Homo sapiens: one gene and its partners. The protein of the gene in region 2 interacts with the protein of the main gene of each other region in a pairwise test. Each region holds a gene or a part of one and is shown on either strand. Other genes may lie near its edges.

Evidence for each region. Proteins that work in one complex are often made in the same cells at the same time.
Region 1: the proteins of PRTFDC1 (region 2) and LGALS9B interact in binary tests that used the Homo sapiens proteins (3 or more experiments, as listed by UniProt).
Region 3: the proteins of PRTFDC1 (region 2) and VWA5A interact in binary tests that used the Homo sapiens proteins (3 or more experiments, as listed by UniProt).

The regions. Positions count from the first base shown.
Region 1 is NC_000017.11:20,464,151-20,472,536, reverse strand, and holds the start of LGALS9B (galectin-9B), read left to right. Parts: upstream 1-4,997; 5' UTR 4,998-5,066; coding exon 5,067-5,105; intron 5,106-8,386.
Region 2 is NC_000010.11:24,847,191-24,851,929, forward strand, and holds the end of PRTFDC1 (phosphoribosyltransferase domain-containing protein 1), read right to left. Parts: intron 4,275-4,739; coding exon 4,198-4,274; intron 2,702-4,197; coding exon 2,654-2,701; 3' UTR 1,424-2,653; downstream 1-1,423. UniProt on the Homo sapiens protein: Has low, barely detectable phosphoribosyltransferase activity (in vitro). Binds GMP, IMP and alpha-D-5-phosphoribosyl 1-pyrophosphate (PRPP). Is not expected to contribute to purine metabolism or GMP salvage.
Region 3 is NC_000011.10:124,138,593-124,146,838, reverse strand, and holds part of VWA5A (von Willebrand factor A domain-containing protein 5A), read right to left. Parts: intron 5,242-8,246; coding exon 5,098-5,241; intron 4,398-5,097; coding exon 4,267-4,397; intron 1,603-4,266; coding exon 1,476-1,602; intron 974-1,475; coding exon 894-973; 3' UTR 1-893. UniProt on the Homo sapiens protein: May play a role in tumorigenesis as a tumor suppressor. Altered expression of this protein and disruption of the molecular pathway it is involved in, may contribute directly to or modify tumorigenesis.

The DNA of each region.
Region 1 (8,386 bases), on a different chromosome or scaffold from region 2:
ATGAAACCACTTGGCAGAACCCTCCTCACTCCCTAGGGACAGAGTGCAGTCACTCAGGCCCATGTTCCCTGCAAAGACGTTGAGGTCCGTGAAAGTAGGTCCATCCCATGAGGGGGCATCTGAGAAGAGAGGTGGGGTGGTGCCGTGGTGAGCAGCACAGACTCCATTGCGGGACTGCCCGGGCTGAGTCCCGGCTCTGGCACTTTGCCTCTGTGTGACTGTGGGCAAGTTGCTTCACCTCTCCGTGCTTTTGTTTCTTTCCAGGTAGAATGGGGATTATTATTTGTGCCTGCTTCATAAAACTGACATAAAGTTAATTGTAAGACACCTAGAATGATGTCCAGCACATAAGCAACTATATTAACTTTAACAAAAAATCTTGGCCGGGCACGGTGGCTCACACCTGTAATCCCAGCATTTTGGGAGGCCGAGGTGGGTGGATCACCTGAGGTCAGAAGTTCGAGATCAACCTGGCCAATATGGTGAAAGCTTGTCTGTACTAAAAATACAAAAAATTAGCCGGGTGTGGTGGTGGGTGCCTGTAATCCCAGCTACTCAGGAGGCTGAGGCAGGAGAATCCTTGAACCCTGGAGGGGGATCTTGCAGTGAGCTGAGATGGCACCATTGCACTCCAGCCTGGGCGACAGAGACAGACTCTGTCTCAAAAAAAAAAAAAAAAAAATCTCTGTGCACTTCCTCCTTGAAGCCATGTAGCCCAGCTGTATATCCATCTTACCCTTTGGAATATGAGATGCTTAAGGCTGGGACTATGTCCAATTCTCTCTGTACCCCAGTGCCCAGAGGAGTCCAGCACTTACTTATTGTCTGCGGCAGGCATTGAATTTTCCAAATATTCCTGGTCCCAGGTGCTCTTTCAACCTCTTGCTGCCTCCTGTCTGGAGGTGAGGTCTCTTTCCCCTCCCCTTGAGCCTGGGTGGTGCTCATGTGATTGCCTCAACAAATAGAATGTGGTGGAAATGGCACTGGATGGCTTCTGAGGCTAGGTTATAAAAGGGATGTAAGTTCCACCTGGCTCTCACTGGGAATGCTCACCCGTGGACTCCAGCCACCATATTGTGGGGAAGCCCAAGCCATGTGGAAAAGCCACTTGCAGGTGTTCTAGTCAATGGCCTCAGCTAAGATCTTAGCCAAGAGCCAATATTAAGTGGTAGACCTGTGGTATTAAGAACATTCATGCTGTTATACAATTATCACTACCATCCATCCGCAAAACTCTTTTCATCTTGTAAAACCAGAACTCTATGCCTATTAAATGATAAGTCTTCATTCCCCCTCCTACCAGCCCCTAACCACCATTCTACTTTCTTTTGTTGATTCTGGCCACTCTAGGTATCTCAGACAAGTGAAATCATACAGTGCTTTTTCTTTTTCTTTTTTTTTTTTTTTGAGACAGAGTCTCATTTTGTTGCCCAGGCTGGAGTGCAGTGGTGCGACCTCAGCTCACTGCAACCTCTGCCTCCCAGGTTCAAGCGATTCTCCTGCTTCAGCCTCCCGAGTAGCTGGGACTACAGGCACTCATCACCGCACCTGGCTACTGTTTGTAATTTTAATAGAGACGGGATTTCACCATGTTGGCCAGGCTGGTCTTGAACTCCTGACCTCAGGTGATTTTCCCACCTTGGCCTCCCAAAGTGCTGGGATTACAGGTGTGAGCCACCGCACCCGGCCTACAGTGCTTGTTCTTTTATGGCTGTTTTATTTCACTTAATGTTCTCAAGGACCATCCATGTTGTGGCATATGCCAGAATTTCCTTCCTTTTTAGGGCTGAATTGTATGTCTGGCCCACATTTTGCTGACCACTCATCCGTTGATGGACACGTGATGCTTTCACCTCTTGGCTTTTGTGAATGATGCTGCTACAAACGTGGGTGTTCACATGTCTCTTTGAGTTCCTGCTTTTGGTTATTTGGGGGATATACCCAGAAGTGGAATTGCTGGATCATATAGTAATTCTATGATGAGGTTTTTGAGGAACAGCCACGCTGTTTTCACAGGGTTCCAGTTTACTCACATTCTGGCCAACAGTTGTTATTTTCTGGATTTTTTTTTTAATCATAGGCATCCTAATGAGTGTGAGGTGGCAGACTCCCTCAGTCTCTAGGGCAGAGAAGAGAGAGCCTCTGAGAAGGGTCTGTGACTTTGAACACTAGAGCTCTGAGCAGGAACATTCCCGAGGGCTGCTTCTAGTCTCCTGAAGACCAGAGCTAACCACTGGGAATGGATTGTGGTGACTGAAGGGTGCCGAAGTCAGAACTCTCAGTGGCCTGGCACTGTGCCTCGAAGTGCCTCCCTACTGTGTTGATTAGTCTAAAAACATGTCAGCCTTTGGGTATGACCTTACTGGGGCCCCTCCAGACAGGGCATGGAGCAGAGGGCCCTCCTTTATGGGCTGGACTCACTAGTGAAGCTGCTTAACTGTGACTCACCTCCAAGGCTCAAGGTGATGCTAAGGTGCTAAACTGCTGGAACTCTTAGCTGTGCCTGTGTCTCCTTGGGCTCTGGGAGATTTTTTCTTTTAGCAGTATTTTATGGCGATATTGTCTAGGTAGAATAAAATGTACAGATCCTGGTTTTCTGTTTGAGTTTTGTTTTGTTTTGTTTTGAGACAGGGTCTTGCTCTGTCACTCAACCTGCAATGCAGTGGCACGATCATAGCTCACTGTGGCCTCAGCCTCCCAGGCTCAAGCAATACTCCTGCCTCAGCCTCCCTGTAGCTGGGACTACAGGCATGCACCACCATGCCTCACTAATTTTTTTGATTTTTAGTACACAGAAGGTCTTGCTATGCCGCCCAGGCTTGTCTCAAACTCCCGGACTCAAGCAATTCTCCTGCCTCAGTCTCCCAAAGTGCTGAATTACAGGTGTCAGCTGCTGCACCCAGCCTCAGCCTGTTGTTAATGGATGTAAACACCTGTGGGACCACCACCCAGAACCAGATCCAGAACATTTCCAGCCTCTCGAAGACTCCTTCGTGCCCCTCCCAGTCAGTGACTCCCAAGGGTAACGCCACTCTGGCCTGTTGTTCAACTTGACTCGAATGGAATTCTCACAGCATGTGTCTGTTTGGATCTGGCTTCTTCCGCTCAGTTGCAAGGCTCATTGACGTTTCCTGTGGCCTAGCTCCTTTTTATTGCTGAGGGCCACCCTGTGGTGTGAAAACCACAATTCATTTCTCCCTTCTTCTGTTGGTGACTATTTGCATTGTTACCAGCCTGGGGCTATGACGAGTAAAGCTTTTAAAAACAGACAAATATGTTTTCCTTTCTCTTGGGTAATTTTTCAGAAGTAGAAAAGCCAGCAACTTTGAAGTAGATATTTGACTATATTACAACTCACCAAGCAGTTTTTCTTTCTTTTTATTTTTTTTATTTTTTGAGACAGAGTCTTGCTCTGTTACCTAGGCTGGAGTGCAGTGGCGTGATGAGGGTTCACTGCAGCCTCGGCCTCCTGGGCTCAAGTGAGCCTCCCACCTCAGCCTCCCACATAGCTGGGACCACAGGTGTGCACCACCACACCTGGCTAATTTGCCTTTTAAATTATATGTAGAGACAGGGTCTTCCTATCTTGACCAGGCTGGTCTCAACTTCTTGGACTCAAGTGATCCTCCCGCTTCAGCCTCCCAAAGGGCTGGGATTACAGGCATGAGCCACCACGCCCTGCCCATTTTTCTAAGTTGGATTATTTTACACTCAAGTCTGCTATGAATGATAGTTCCAGTTGTTCCATATCCCAATCAATTGGTGATTGCTACAAATGACGTGACGTGATGAAAATATTCCTGGTGTTCGAGAGGATTGCAAAGAATTTCCCTTCTTTTCTCTCCTTTCTGCTCCCCTTGTACTGTCTACTCCTTAACTTGGTCAAATTCTACTTGATCCAGAACATAATGGGATGGTGAGTGCAGACGACACACACGGCCTCAGTCTATGGGAACATCTCAAAGGAGTTCGTCTGCAAATTCTAGTGCATCTAGGCAGAACACAGGAAGGAAGAGAGGTGCAGACTCACGTATGGCCTGGGGCACCTGCCATCCCCTCGAGCCTGTATGGTCCTTACCCGCCCATCCCCAGCTTGAGTTCTGGGCCTTCTCGCCAGCACATCGTTGGGACCTGGTCAACTTCAGGTAAGTTTATTTCATGGCTCCCTCTCCCCTCTGCAGCCTATCCTGTTATTCTCTGTTTCAGCCAATTATTTCCCCTAACTAGGTGCTGAAGCCAATTAAAGGCAGTTCATGCCATATGTTCCTTCCCACTCCCATGTCACTTGAAATGTTCTATTATGTCCAAGACTTCTCTCCCCATCCTAAAGCTCACAAAATAAGGATGGAGAAGAGAAGAAAGAGAGATTCACTGAGGGGGAGGATCAGAAGCTCCTGGGCACCCCATACTCTAGAATAAAAATCTTCATTATAGTGTTTTTCATGCAAAATATTCCCTTCTACATAATTATGTTTTAACATGAAGAATAGAAATTTAAAGAGGAGAAATACTTCTTGAAGATTCTGAGAATCTTCATATAGCTCAGGCTGCCACGAATTAGCTGTGTGACCTGGGGCATGTCCCTCAGACTCTGAGCCTCAGCTTCTCTATATGTAAAATGGGTTGAAGCCGCCCTTCCCCACAAGCACCCTGTGCACAGGCAATGCCCAGCCCCATTATTTTCTGGAACCAGTGGCCAAGCATGCTTAGGACACCCAGCCACATACTTCTGGGCAGTGTCATCTGGCAACTCACTGTCATGTCAGTGTGGTCAAGCATTGTAGACCTCTATGAACCAAATATGCTTCAGGCTGGGGTTGAGCACAGGAGAGGGAGGAGGGAAAGGTCACTGGGGCTGGGAGTGCCTACTTCCCTCTATGAGTGTCACCCCAGTTCACCCAACACCCTACCTTTCTCTCTCTGGACCCACTTCCTCTTGCTGCCGGCTCCTCCCCATTGAATAACAGCCAAGTTGCTTTGGTTTCTATTACTTTGTTAAGTCATTCCTTCTGCAAAGGACTGCCTGGCAGGTGTGAAAGGCAGCGGTGGCCACAGAGGCGGTGGAGATGGCCTTCAGCGGTTCCCAGGCTCCCTATCTGAGCCCAGTGAGTTCCAGGGCCGTGGGCACAGGGCTGCCTCAGCCAGGGGGACACAGTTATGGGGCTCTGAGGAAGCAACTCCTGGGTGGCAGGAGACAGGGGTGGGGGCATCCCAAAGAGAACACAAGCAGGGCAGAAATGTCAGTGGGGGTCGTCCTGGCACAGCTGTGCCATGCTGAGCTCACTCATGCCTGGAGGGATGCTCCTCCCATGAATCATGGGTTTGACAGTGTTGGCTGAGCTGTCGTGTCCTGTCCTGTGCGCTCAGGGGAAGAGGTGTAGAGTGGGATGGTTTGTGTAAAGAGGAAGCAAGCATGCTTCTGGGACAGTAAGGATGCTACCCGGCATGGTAGTTAAGGGTGCGTACTGTGGAGTTGGCCTCCCTGGGTCCAGCTATTTACTGGCTGGTGGTCTCTGGGCCTCAGTTTCCATATCTGTGAAGTGGGAATAATACTTGAGCCCCCCACTCCCAGGGTTGGGATATGGATTAAGGAAGTAGTGTATCTAGAGTGTTTGAACAGTGCCTGACACACTGTAGGTGCTTTGGGAGTGTTTCATGTTATTGGGAGTCTGGGGGCAGCAGGGAAGGCCTCCCGAGGAGGTGTCTGTGCTCTGAAGGGTGAGGCGGAGTTAACCAGGCATAGGCATGTCAGGGCATCTGTAGACGGACAGTCTCAGAGGTGACGGAGGCAGGGACTGTCCCTGCAGTGTGGGGTCAGAGGGCTGCAGGTGCCTTGCTGAAACTCTGTGAGGTTTATGAGTCCCCTTCATTCACGGAAAATCCAAGGTTCAGGGAGGCAAAGGCCAGTTGCCAAATGCCCCCAGATGGGAGTGGCAGCCCCAGGAGCCCAGGAGCCTTCAGGGGTGACTGTGTCCTGGGCTGGGTCCTGTCACAGGATCTCACCCTGCCTTGGCAAAGAGCTTCCCGAGGGGCTGGAGTGGGTGGGCTGATGGGCCCTTCCTGAGTGGGGAGACAGAATGGGGAGGGTGGGCAGAGGCAGGGTGCTGAGGGCAGGGAAGCTGCCAGGGGCCACCTCAGCAGAGGCCAGGGTCGGGCTTGGGTGCCCTCTGGTGATACTGAGTCCAGAATGAGGCTGCCTATGTTCTGGTCTGCAGAGCTCAGCTCTGCTTTCTAGACTCCAGAGAGGAAGAATGGAGAAAGGAGGCCTGTTTCCTCCTGGCTGTCACCAATGACCCCTCAGCCACCCTATGGAAGCCCCCAAGGTAGAACCTGCATAGAGGGAGTGGGGGAAGCTGGAACGGGCTGCCGGTGTTGGGCGAGCCTTAGAGTCAGCGTATGCCACCTTGAGCATGTCACCCCGTTTCTGGTTTTCTGCCAGAGAGGGGATCCCAGAGCTTCTTCCAGGTTCTGACATATTATTATTCTGGTAACTGGTTTTTACTTTCTAATCTTTGGATTCAGAAGGAAAATCCTCCTATGCACATCAGAGAGTTTGAGAGAGTTAAAGCGGGGCCTTGGAGCTCAGACAAGAAAGACGATCAGTGCAGCCCCCACAGGTGTCCAGAGCTCCCCTCTACCCTACGGGGGCTCCCCTGGGTTGGGACACTTGAGCCTCACTCGGTGACCCATCTGGCAGTCGGAGCCACGCTTTCTCCACATGCCGACAGTGGGGGAAGGTCACGCGGTTCACTGTCCTGCTGAGGAGGGCTGAGTGCCATGAGGGCCTGGCTTGGAAACCTCACTCCCACTTCTTGTCTGGCCTCATCTAGCCCAGCCTCTTTGGAGGGCTGGGGGGAAGCTGGAACCACCTGCTGTGTGGCCCAGGAAGCACTGCGAGAGCCAGGAATAAGGACGTTCCGAGCTTCCTCATGAGAGGAAGCCTGTGTGGTGGTTAGAAGCGTGGGTGCTGGGGTTCAAATCCCAGCTCTGTTGCCGACCAGCTGTGTAGCTTTGGGCAAGTGACTGAACTTTTCTGTGCCTCAGTTTCCTCATCTGTAAAAGTGGCCGGGGTTGCTGTGAGGATAAATGTTCCCGGTCACCCCCAGAGCCCTCATGGACACACATGGATCCAAATGCCACAGCAGCCTTAGCTGGCCAACTTAAAACAACACATTTGTGCTTACAGTGTTGGAGGTCAGAAGGCTAAAATCAAAGTGTCATGAAAGGTGGCCAGCAGGACCGTGGAGCCTCTGAGGCAACAGGGCACTTTGGCTAAGGGCCACGTACTGGCTCCAGCTGGCAGGCAGTCTCGGCCAGCCAGGCTGAGCTCCCTACTCCTGGGGCCAGGCCTTGGTGTCCTCTGGTGATGCTGAGTCCAGAATGAGGCTGCCCACATTCTGGTCCGCAGGGCTCAGCTCTGCTTTGACTTCCAGGTAGGAAGAAGAGGGAAAGTCCCCGGTCTCTGGGCACAACCAGGAACAGAGAGCAAGTTCTGACTCAGCAGAGGGATTGATTTGTTCCATGCAAAGAGCTGCACTGTCAAGGCCGACATGGGCCAGAGGCTCAGCACATGGCATCGCACCCCGTCCTCTCAGAACGCTGCCAGCCAGGGACTCAGCACATGGCATTCCACCCAGTCCTCTCCAGAATGCTGCCAGCCAGGGACTCAGCACACAGCATTGCACCCAGTCCTCTCCAGAACACTGTCGGGTGGTGTTACTGCCCTGCCATTCAGAGGAGGGAAGTGGGGCACAGGCAGGTCAAGTGACTTGGCCAGTGTCAGAATTGCTAGTGTACAGAGCTGGGAGGCGAGCCCAGGCCCATGGGACCACAAATCCAACACAAAAATCCATCCTCCTGCACCCTACGGAGCAAAAGTAGGTCCAGTTGTTTTCCTGGGTTTCCTGGACACACGGATCTAAATTCCACAGCAGCCTTGGCTGGCCAATCTTAAAACAACAAATTTGCTTTCTTAATGATTCTGGAGGGCAGATGTTAAAATCATCGTGTGAGCAAGGTTGTTTCCTTCCGGAGGCTCCAGGGGAGAATCTGTTTCTTTTGCTTTTCCAGCTTCTAGAGGCTGCCTGCCTGCCTTGGCTTATGACCCCTCCTGCCATCTTTAAAACCAGCAGCTTTGTCTGGGTGCAGTGGCTCATGCCTGTAATCCCAGCACTTTGGGAAGCTGAGGCAGGAGGATCTCTTTAGCCCAGGAGTTGGAGACCAGCCTGGGCAACAAACTGAGACTGTGTCTCTACAAAGAATAGACAAAAATTAGCCAGGCATGGTGGTGCATGCCTGTAGTCCCAGCTACCTGGGAGGCTGAGGTGGGAGGATCGCGTGAGCCTGGGGAAGTGGAGGCTGCAGTGAGCTGAGATCATGCCACTGC
Region 2 (4,739 bases):
CTGGGTGGAGAGCGTGGTTTGGGGTTTCAACTTCCTAGAACACACTACCTCTATGACAAAAGGGAGGGCATATTTCCATGACACCCGGTCTCTGGATGTGGAATAGCCTGCTTTTTCTCTCCATTGGGAAGACACAAGTTGATTTCACAGAAGGCTGAGCAAATGCCTGACTGTGCTCTGAAAGGCTGTTTTCACAGTCTCAGAAGGCCTGAAACATGGCAAGCCATCTTATACGCAAAGATTAAACAAGGTATGTCGGGATTTGACTATTTGCCATTTACATCTAGGGGGTCCGTGGGTCAAAAATGAGTACATTCCAGTCCCTGTAAGAAAGGACCAATTTATAATGAGGGGTTCTAATTTGTTTGGAAAATCCCAAAATATTACTAATTATGTTGATTATAACTGATTCCAAACTTCCCAGTGAAATACACACACACGCGCGCACACGCACACACACACACATACACACACGCACACGCACACACACATACACACACACACACATACACATTTTCCCCCTTACAAATCAGCTTTGGAACACTAAATTAATAATGGATTTGTTATTAATCAAGTAATAAGTTTTGCATTTTTGGTTTAGAGTGAATAAACTCAGTGATATTAACTAGACATGAGTTTTGCAAGAGAAAAGGAAATACTATTTTTCCCAAGATGACTTTCTTGGCTATCACTGTCAAAATATTGTCTGGTAGGAAAAAACTGCAAGCATGATTAAACTTCTTGCATATTTAGTGAATTTTCAGCATTAACTATACAAGTCCTCACAATCTTGTGAGGTAGATCAATCTCCTTTCTAATTTGAATAAACAGACTGTCCTCAGAAAGGATACTGATGCTTACTAAAATTCAACGTTTTTAAGAAAACATTTTCATATTGCATACTTATGGATAATTTTACACTTAAAACCAAATGTGTGCCTGGATTTTTCTAGGTCCTCTGACATAAACATGGCATTGTGAAAAAAAAGCTATATTCAGAGTGTTAATTTTGGTATTTCAAGAAATTCGTCAGTCAGACACAATTATAAATCTAAGCTTGGGTACCAATGCTTCTGTGAAACAAAGCTAGAAGAGATTCCTTTTGCAGACTTATCCCTTGGGATATTTGGGTGTGGCTTGTTTTCTTCTCTGACCGAAACAAAGATATGCAGGAAAATCTTCTTTTACAACTAAAATTCCTTGTTCTCACAAACGAGCTTGAGGAAAAAAAAAAGCAGCAGATCTAGCCCAGCTTAATCATTTGCTTCTACTAGTGCATATATTGGATTTAATCCAAGTTAACAAAAATAAAGCCGCAGGATAGATACATGCAGTCGTATATTTAAGCTACTGACTCACATACATGTTAATGTCTGAAAGTATTTAAAAAATATGGAGGCGGAAGAAAAACAGTAAGAAGTGATAAAACATAACAAGTTTTCTTATTCTTTATTAGTTTAAAGGAAGCTAGAACCTAATAACAATACGCCACATACGGTTCAGAACCAAACAAAAGCTGCTTAGTTATTTATTTTGCATTTGCATTTTGTAGGAAGTGAGAAAAAAACAGCTCTATTGGGACTCAAGTTTATTTTCAATTAAAATCCCCATAAATTAGGAAATGTCTTATAAAACGGAGAAATTGGAAAAAAATGTTATTCAGAAAAAAACTTTCTTGAGTGTGCTTGTTTCCTGTAGCACCTTGGATTTTGTGATCAGTCTTTTAAAGATATTTTTTAAAAAATTCAACCTCTGTCTTCACATTTAGGACAGGGCATAACAGTGTCTTGTCCTTTCATGCAAATAAGAGGAAAAATTTATACTTGCTTAGTTTCGAGCATTGAAAGCACTCGCCCCTAATTCTGCCATTTGCTCATGTCCCACATGAATAAAAGGATACAGCTTAGAAACCAGGGCCTTGCTGCTATTGTATTTTTTTCTAATTAAAATTCAGAGTATTAAACACAGTTGAGTACATCCATGCATACATGACATACCGTCATCACATACCGGAAGCTCCAATCAAGAGCCCCGAGCAAAGCTCGTTTCATAACATCATTAAGATTCATTGTACACTGCGTTTCAGAAAGGCTTTGTCAAAGCAGATAATAATGGCCTGTCAGAAATGCACAAACAGAAATTTATATTAAATTGTCCTTTCCCTCCTTTTAAAATATGGGAATCTATTAATAGCTGCATTCCCGGTATAGGGGACTCAAGTCTTCAGTTAAAAAAAAGTCCCCAGCTTCTTAATATTGTAAGCTTATTACCAAAATAAGAGTATAAAAAGTTAAGTGAAAAATATTTGAGTAACTAGGTGGGGGTATTCCTGGGAATACTAATCAAATATAATGACTGTATCAAAACAAAGGAAGGCGGAGCTCAGGAGTGTGAAGGTAGATAGCATTGCTGAGTCACAAGGCGGAGTGTTTAATTTGGAACAAGTCAAATAAAAGCACTGCTTTCTTTTCCTTAGGAACCTTTGATACTCTTTATATTAACCTCAGAAAAGAAAGCTCTCTCATTTGAACATTTTTTTCTTTTATATCCTGCTGAGTGAAGATGCCTGGGGGGACAAACTTGACAGCTGGCTTCCCAAGTACAGGCGTAAATATGATGCTATCTGGGACTTTAGTGGTGAGAATTCATGTCTTTAGACTCGATATTTTTCTTTACCGTGCTCATTGATGACGCATATGTGCTGAAACAATAAAGGATTTAAACGCATCAGTTTCTTAACAAAATATGAGACACAGAAAAGGTGATGCAGTAATAACCGAATGCCATCCTGTAATTGGCTATTGATCATTTAAATAGAAATGTGTGTATTTATATGTGTGGGTAAAATCTAAAGAGACCCATTCAAGTGCTTGACAAAAGGTCCTTTGTGGTTTAGTTTGGAGATTCCTATTCTGAATCCGGCTCCCCAGGTCCCTAAAACCCAGAAATGCTGAGGGAGCTGTATGTTTAGCCCTGCTAGAAACAGAAGTCTCCTACTGGTAAGATGACAACTGCTTGGGTGAATGGAGAAATAACAGTGGCAAGCACAACATGGGCTCTTATTCAACCCTTTTTGGGCAACAAGCAAAGGGTTAGGAATATTTTGATTGAAAGCAACAGAAATGGGGCCAGGCTAATGTAAGCAAAAAAGGAGGATTTGGATGGGCTCAGTGGCCCCTGTCTGTAATCCCAGTACTTTGGGAGGCTGAGGTGGGAGCATGATTTGAAGCCAGGAGTTCAAGACCAGCCTGGACAGCATACGAAGACCCCATCTCTACAGCAAGTAAAAATATTAGCTAGGCATAGTGGCGTGTGCCTGTAGTCCCAGCTACTCAGGAGGCTGAGGCGGGAGGATCGCTTGAGCCTGGGAGTTCAAGGCTGCAGTGAGCTATGATTGCGTCACTGCACTCTAGCCTAGGTGAGACTGTGGAGTGAGACCCTGTGTCTTTAAAGAGGGGGGAGGGGGAATTTATTGGTGGAATACTGGGGTAGCTCTCAGAATCCAAGGATGAGCTGGGCAATGAAGCAACTAGAAGGCAGGAACAAGGGCAGCTCCAGAGACTTTCACCCATGGTGCTATGGATACTCTCTGGGGGCACTGCTATCCTAGTGGTTGAAGTCTGAACACACTCAGTCTCTGTGACTTTTGGTTTAAATTTCTAATTCCCAGGACAGAGAGACTGATTGGTCCACTATGGGTAAGTTGTCTACCTCTAGATCATGCAGTGTTGGTCAGGGTCACACAGCTGGGGTCCACACTGGGGGTCCACGTCTGTGTGGTGAGATCATTTCCCCCAAAGAGGGAAGAGTTATGAGCTGCATGCCACTGTAATTGAAACCTGCTAGAGTTCAAGCACTGACACAAACCAGTGTATAGAATATTGGCTATTGTTATGGTTGGTTGGGCACAGTCAATGACTATGGAGAAGAATCAGTGTCAAACCATAGTTCTGCTTTTAGCTTCCTATTTCTTTAGTACAAAATAGAGATAATCATAATTTGCCTCTATCATCCTGATACCTACCCTGCAGAATAGTAGTGGGAGTTAATTGGGAGTATGGATGCAATGTGCTCACCATACTCCTGACATAGAAGATACTCAATCAATAGCAGACATCACTAACACGCATTCAATACTTTTTTAAATTGTTAAGTTCTTATAAAAAGGGCGGTTAGGGATTTGCATGCAAGACTTACATTCAGATCTCTGAAGTATTCATTGTAATCTAAGGCATATCCCACCACAAATAAGTTTGGAATCTCAAATCCAGCATCTTAGCAGACAGAGAAAGAGAAAAAAAAAAAGGAACAAAATTTAGATTATATAAATGCAAGTCACCATATGCTGCTGTCGCCACTCAAACTTGAGGACCTTTCATTGAGGCAGGAGGGAGTGAGAAATGGTGAGAAATGCACACGATGAGCCCAAGAGGGACCTGGACCCGAAGGACTACTCGGGAGGAAGGAGGCAAGGCAAACAAGCCAACCTACAATGAAGAATGACTGATCTAGCATACAGAGTTGAGAAAGGGCTCAGGAAGCCTGGTGCATAACAAGAAATATGCATAATTGAGTCACGTGGCCCTGGTGTTCTAAAGCAAGCAGTATGCAGTGATACGATGCCAAAGGAAACACTCTCAACAACACAAAGGAAAGTTCAAGCAGAAGGCGTTACGACGCTGCATTATGTGAACAGGTGCGCGGGCCACAGCAACTAGAAAGCAATTCTCCCGCTGTAC
Region 3 (8,246 bases), on a different chromosome or scaffold from region 2:
GGTCATTTCCACCAGGATAGGGTATATGAGACACAAGGGTCAGGAACGATTACGGGGAGCTCCTTTCTTCCTAATGCGGTAAGTGCTCCAGGTTCAGGTCCCAGGCAAAGCTCCCATTAAGCCCACCCTTCCCTTTACTGCACTAGATCAGGGCCTGACTTAGAGGACACATAGGTTCAGGGTAGGACTAAGGATTGCATTATAGACTTCTTAAGGTGTTTCATGATTAAAGAGGAACATCTCTCTCCAACAGTTATAGTTCAACCCAAGTCTTTCAGGCAGTGGAAGAAAAGACATGTAGGTTGTACAGGCTAGCAAAGCCCAAGAAGAATGAATCAGGAAGGTCCCCAACAGTGTCACCTCTCACAGTGGACCCCTGCAGTCTCTGTCTTTGTGATCTTGACATTACATTGATCCAGATGTTGGCTTTCAACTTCCCTCTAACTCCTCCTACGCAAGCTTACCAGTATGGCCCTGATAAGTATATAAGATAGAAAGTGAACAGACAAAGATAATGCAGAAAATTCTCTAATTCAAGCATTCTCTAACATAAATGCTGCAATCTTTAGTCTGTAGTTCATGTCACCTGTTTTTCATGTTGTTTCCCTGGAAACCCTGGGAGGAACATTACTGCCTATGAATGTTTTGAACTCCCTCAAGAAAGGGAATAGGTTCTGGGACCACTGTCACTTTTCTGAGGGCATATGTTGGGAAAAGAAAGATCATATCCAAAGTGAACCTGGAGCAGAGAAGCGAAGTGGAGTAAGCATCCTTTACTTTTATGGCAAAAAATAAAGAGTTATAATACACAAGAACACATCATCACAGCAAAAGTGATACTAGAGGAAATGACAGTAGCAAATTAAAGGCACTTCTTTTTCTGGATGGTATCTTCAAAAGGCAAAGATAGCAGGATCCACAGATGACTTCAGGAAAGTAATAGCAGCTTTCACAACCGAAGGCATGGTGGAGCCTGTGGTGAGGAAAAACAAGAAGCAGGGATGAAGGATTGCAATTAGAGGCTCCTCCAAACCTCCCAGATCATCTACCCTGAGTTGTGCTTTTATCTGTCCTCAATATCCCTGCTTTTTCTTTTCTTGCTACCCAGATTCTCCTTGAATCTTCTCTGGCCCCAGATACACTCAGCTGCAGTGAGATAACAAACAGCCAGGAGAACACGCACCAAGTCTAGTCTTCTACTCAGCTTGGTACTGAGACAGTAAGGAGAATCAATGCCACTTGTCCTTCTCACAGTTCACACTCCCCATTTGTGTCCCTCTCCCTCCCTACTCACCCACCTACCTTGTCCCCAATTTAATATTTCACCCTTGTCCTCCCAAGAAAAGAACTAGCAGAAAGATTAGTAAAGATCTGAAGCAGGATGGTGGAGGCAGGTGACAATGGGACTCTCTTGTGGTCACCTTCCGCCAGGCCAGGGAAGGGGAAGGAGACAGGCCTTAGGATTGTGCTCCTACCTGCATGGGCACGCATCCAGGCCACGGCCTTCCTTTCCAGAAGCTCCCATTCACACTTCAAGTCCTTACCATTGCTGTGCAGCCAGATCACGGCCAGGATGGTGGCCCAGCCTGAGGAATCCACAAGCTGCACAGTAGATAGAGAGCTCCAGTTGGCACAGGAAGTCCCTCAAAAGGATGCAAAAAGCTTCACTCCCTCCTCACTTAGCATCCTTCTAAATGTCACTAGATGGAGTTACCTGGTCTCTCTTTACCTCCAGATACTACTTGCAAGGCATAATGCCAGGCCTTAAACCTCAGGGCAGCAATCCATTGAGTCTCGAAATAGAAAATCCTAAGTTTTAAATCCAGTGTAACCACCAGGACGGTTCTGGAAACCCCTAAGACAAGGCCAGCTCTAGTAAGAGAAACACAGGCAAAACTGCTTTATAGTTTATAAAGAACCTTCATAAGTTTTTTTTAATTGTAACCCTTATACCCCCCCACCAAAGAAATCATGAAAAAATATCAATAAACATTTTTAAGAAAGAAAACTGATTTCATATAGAAGTATTAACAAAATGATTTGCTCAAACTTAGCTGTCTAGCAAACGACAGAAGTGAGACTAAAGGCCAAATATTCTGACTCTAGTTATATTCTCTTATTTCTCAATAGAAAATCTCAGCCATGCAGCAGAAAATTGTCTCCCATGAGTTTTCGCTCACTGCTCCCAGCTTCAGCTTTCAGAGTCAGGAGATCAAGGGAAATTCCTATTTTATATCATGACTTTTAAAACTTGGAAATGGCTATCATGTCCTCTCTGAGTGGTCTTATTTCAGATTAGAATTCTCAATTCCTCCATTTCTTCCTTAAGAGGACTGCTTATGTCAAAGCAGTAAGCATCCCCACGCTTGTTCTCCTAGTCTAAAAACAAACAGCGTAATGATTTTAAAAATATATCTCCTTAAATGGTCTATCTGGAGGTAAATGTACTTATAGAATTCTACAATCACAGCCCATTTCAGGTAACCCTGTTGTCCTCCATTTCTTAGTTAAATATTCTGATTCACACAGTTGTAGTCATCTAAAACCTCTGATTTTCATGTGCAAATGCTCTCTTCTCTACCTGTAGAGTTGGGAATTTGGAACCCAAAACAGTACTTAGCTTTTATTCCTACTATGTTGTTTTTCTTTTTTTTTAATGAAAAGTTGCAACTCATTGTTCAGAGGTTTTTTGGGATCCTGATTCTTTTGACTGATAGTTTATCTCCCAGTTTTGTCATCTACAAATAGGAAAGTCTTGGTCTTTATCTTCATCTAAATCTTCATTGAAACTGTGGACCTCCAGAGAATTCAGAGCCTGGTGGGTCTAAAAATCTGTTTCATGTTTGAAATCAATTCATCATTCAGCGCCATAGGTTTTCAACTAATTTGTACTTGGTCCATGTTCTCATCATTAAAAAAAAAATCAAATTCCTTACTGAAATTCAGATATACCAGGTCTGTTGGTTCACTTGATTCATTGGCCTGGTTACCATTCCAAAGAAGGAAATGTCAGTCTGAAGTTTTTTGTTCCCAGTGCATCTAATAATCCCTGTATCCTCTTCCAAGTGTGTATGAATTATCATCTTAATTACTTTTCTAGAACAGCATTTTCCAATAAAAATATAATGCTAGAAACATATGTAATTTTAAATTTTCTGGTAGCCAAATTTTAAAAAGTAAAAGAGGTATAATTATTTTACTGATATATTTTATTTAACCCAATCTATTAAAAAGTCATCATTTTAACATGCAATCAATATAAAAATAATTATTGATGAAATGTTTTATTCCTTTTTATAAAAGTCTTTGCAATTAGTATGTATTTCCCACCATAGCACACCTCTATTGAATTAAAAATTCAGTTCCTCATTTGTATTAGCCACGTTTCAAAGGCACAATAGCCACATGTGACTAGTGGATACTGTATTGGACAGTGGAATTGCAGAATATCTGAAATTTATTTGATCTCCTTCCACATTTTGAAAGTTTAGAATGATATTTGTCCTTCAGGCTTTTTGCACCTGTCTCATGCCTAACAACTTCTCAATGAGCGTTAGAAGATTTTGTAAGTTACCTTGAAATTCTGGAATGCAATTTATCCTTATCAGCATATTTAAATACATCTGAAACAACTAGGTGGTTCCTAGTAACAACACTTTACCTATCCTGACTTCAGTTAACTTTTGCCAATGTCTGGACCACTTTCATCGGTATGAAGAGGAGCAATAATGAGGTTATTATTGGGGGTTCTCAAGACAGATACTCTTAGAACTGAATCTGGCTCTGCCACTGATGGGCTAGGTAAACTCAGACACATTTTTAGACCTCCCTGAACTTCAGTTTCTTCATCTATAAACAGCAACACAAATGGGATCTACCTTATTAAATTAATGTGTGAAATAAATAAGCTCATGAATATTAACTGCTTAGCACAGTGCTTGGCACAGAGTAATTGCTCACTAAGTATTAGTTACATAACCAAGATGATTGGCAGGGAATACGATTAAAGTGGAAGAGGATTTTTGCTTTCCCTTTGTCATCCACCAGCAAAAAAAACCCCATCAATTCCTACTAGCTTCCCCATTAATCCCTTGATCTTTCTGCTCTAACATGACTGGAAAAACCTTCAGCCTCTATTTATTACAAATTAATTTAGTCTATGACCCCCTATATTTTCCTTCCTCAGGTAGGTCCTGAATCACCTCAATTCTCAATGATGACCTCTCTCTCAAAAACATACATACTCCTTTTTCCATTGAATCTTACCTCGGCAGGCTGTGCAGCCATTATTTCTTCCAAACTCATACCTAGGATCTTGGCTAGATCTTCATTCAGATCCCAGGAACCATTTGCATTTTGGTGGTAAATCAGCTGCACAAGGTGATTCTCTCCAAAGCCTTTGAGGAGAAAGAAAAGAGAAGAATGAGAAATTGTGGAGCTATCGGCACCTCAGCACACTTGAATTTAGGGCTGCTAAATTCAGAGACAGGCCATAGCAAGAATGCAATAGAAAGAAAGTCATCAGACAACATCCAGAAGATCGGTCTTCAAACCCTACTTGTGAAAGGATGACCAGTGGAACAGGGGCTCACAGATGGTGGCAGCAGGGCTCTGCTGGGGGGCGAGGGCAGCCCGCAGGCAAGCTGTGTGAGCTGAGATGGCCAAGGGGGTTTGTTCGACTAGGGGTCACCCTAGACTCCACTGGGATAGCAGGTTTCAAGGTCCTATATGATATCCTAATGAACCTAGCTAGGCTGACCCTGGGAAACATAGGGGCGGAACAAATCTGACCTTCTGCCCAGTGCTTTTCAAACAGATGAACTCCTGGGTAAAGAAAGCCACAGGCAGCAGAACATTGAAGGCTAGTTTGTCAGTCCCTATAGATTGCAGGGGTGAACCGAGGCCTGCCTCATCTGCATGGTAAGTTTCCAGGCTGGTTCTGTGGGTGGAGGAATGAATCTTTTCCAATGCATGGGGGGTCCCTTCGAGAAACATGCATCTCTTGTCATAGCTGTAACTACAAGCTTTTAGCTTGCCTAGTCCTGTATATGTGACAGAAAAACATTGTTGAGAAAATGTTCCTATAAAGGTACTCACCTGGACTGTGCTGGTCCTTGTGACTTATCAACCCACAGAGACTGTAATCGTCCATCTGGAATGTCTTGGCCTTATAACACATAAGTTCCCCTCTGGGCTGAGATGCAGAAGGAGGACGGTCAGAGTGTAAGGCCTTTCGAAAACCTGAAAAAATCCAAACATTAAGACAGTGGCACTCCCTGCTCTCTGCAGTGGGCAAAGGACTGTGACAATTCAAGATACATACCCCCCCATCCACACTGGCTTCAGTCACCACCCTTACTGTGCTATTTTTCTCTCATATGCCCACCTCCTGCGCAAACCCTCACCCTCTGAGCTCTCCTTCTACTGTGTCCTCTGGAACCCCTGGCACATGCTAAACAATTTTTCCTGCATCTTTAGTTTTACTACAGGAGGCTTCTGCCAGCTAAGTCTCAACTTAAAACTGAATTTATCCTCCCAAAAAACTATTCTCCCTCCATCACTCTCAAATGGTTGTTGCTCAATGTACCACACTTCAAGTAGGGAGGTAGGGTTGGCAACCTCTTCAGTCCCTGATGCTGCATCCAGATCATTAAATGCGGTTTACCTTCCACATGTCGTCACTATTGTCTACTTCCAATCTCTTTGTTATTTCCGATCATTCATTAAAGTATCTGAAAACTAGACCATAGACTTCCACTCCATTAAAAGGCCTACCATCATCTTGAGATTTCATCACCCATGTAGATAGCCTATAAAATACCCTAATGCAAAGCTTCTTCAACTTCATCAAATCCAATGACTTCCACTTCATTCTACTTCTGCCACTTCCTCCCAAGCCATGAAGACCTTGTTATTATGCAGAATTGTTCCACTCATAGAAAATAAATTGAAGCTGGGCACAGAGATTCATGCCTGTAATCCTAACACTTCAGGAGGCTGAGGTGGGAAGATCACTTGAGCCTACAAACTTGCTACCAGCCTGGACAAAGTAGCAAGACCCCATCTTTATAAAAAGTTTTAAAAATTATCTGGGCACGGTGACATGTGCCTAGAGTCCCAGGCAGAAGGATCACGCAAGGCCAGAAGTTTGAGACCAGCCTAGGCAATGTAGTGAGACCTCATTTCTAAATAATATGAAAATTAAAAATTAGCCAGGCATGGTGGTGCATGTCTAGAGTCCTACCTACTCAGGAGGCTGAGGTGGGAGAATCACTTTAGCCCAAGAGATCGAGGCTGCAGTGAACTACAATCACACTACTGCACTCCAACCTGGGCAGCAGAGTGAGATCCTGACTCAAAAAAAAAAATTTAAAAATTCCTAGTTTTAAAATATAATATCTGATTTTTTCAGTTTTCTAAGTTAGAGATTTCTGTTTTACCTGATCTTTGACCTCATCTGGACTACTAAGTTCTTGACTTCTCTACTTTTTTTCCTATATGTCAGCTTGCTTCCATCAAGCTCTCTAGTGTTACCCTAAAAACAAGCTTCCTAGCATTACCCTGACACCAAAACCAGATACAACAACAAAAGTAAAGTTACAGGCCAATATCCTTGATTAACATAGATGCACAATCCTCAACAAAATATTAGCAAACCACATTCAGAAGTACGTTAAAATGATCATGCATCATTATCAAATGTGATTCATCCAAGAGATGAAAAGTTGGTTCAATAAACATAAATTGATAAACATGGATCACGCTAACATAAAAAAGGACAAAAACATGATCATTTCAATAGATGCAGAAAAAGTATTAAACAAATTCAACATCATGATAAAAACTCTCAACAAAATAGGTATAGATGTAAGGTACCTCAACATAATAAAGACAATTATGGCAAACTCACACCTAATATCATATTGAAGAGGGAAAAGTTGAAAGCATTTCCTCTAAAATCAGAAACAAGACAAGGATGCTGACTTTCACCACTTCTATTCAATATAGTACTGGAAGTCCTAGCCAGTGCAATTAGGCAAGAGAAATAAATAAAAAGAATCTAGATTGGAAAAGAGGAAGTTAAACTACACCTGTTTGCAGATGACATGATCTTAAACATAGAAAACCCTAAAGACTCTACCAAAAAAAAAACACCTGTTAAATAGAATAAACAAACTCAGCAAAGTTGAAGGACATAAAATCAACATACAAAAGTCATTAGTGTTTCTATACACAAACAGCAAGCTCTCTCAAACAGAAATCAAGAAAACAATCTCATTTGCAATGGCTACAAAATAATTAAAACATTTAGGAATAAATTTAACTGAGGAGGTAAAACATCTCTATACTGAAAATTGTAAGACATTGATGAAGGAAATTGAAGAAGACACAAATAAATGTAAAGATATCTCATGTTCTTGGATTGGAAGAATAAATATTGCTAAAATGGCCATAATACCCAAAGCAATTTACAGATTCAATGCAATACCTATGAAAATATCAAAGACAACCTTCACAGCATTAAAAAATCGTAAATTTGTATGGAATTATAAAAACATAGTCAAAGTAACCTTGAGAAAACACACACACACACACACACACACACACACACAAACAAAATGCTGGAGGCATCATACTATCTGACTTCAAAATATACTACAAAGCTATAGTAACCAAAACAGCATGGTACTTGCATAAAAACAGACACTGACCAATGCAACAGAAATGGAGAGCCCAGAAATAAATCCACACATTTACAGCCAACTAATTTTTGACAAAAGTGCTAAGAACACAATAGGTAAAAGACAGTCACTTTAATAAATGGCATTGGGAAAACTGGATACACACATATGAAAGAATAACATTAGACCCTTATCTCTCATCACATAGAAAAACCAACTCAAATGAACTAAAGGCTTAAGTGTAAGAGGTGAAACTGTGAAACAACTAGAAGAAAACATAAGGGAAAATATCTATGACATTGGTCTGGGCAATGATTTTTGGATATGACCTCACAAGCACAGGCTACAAAAGCAAAAAATAGATAAACGAGGTTACCTCTTGTGTATAGCAAAGAAAACAATCAACAGGGTGAAGAAACAACCTACGGAATGGGAGAAAATATTTGCAAACCAAACATCTGATAAGGGTTTAATATATACAAAGTACAGAAGGAATTTAACTCAAAACCAAGAAAGCAAATAACCTTATTTAAAAATGGACAAAAGACTTGAGTAGACACTTCT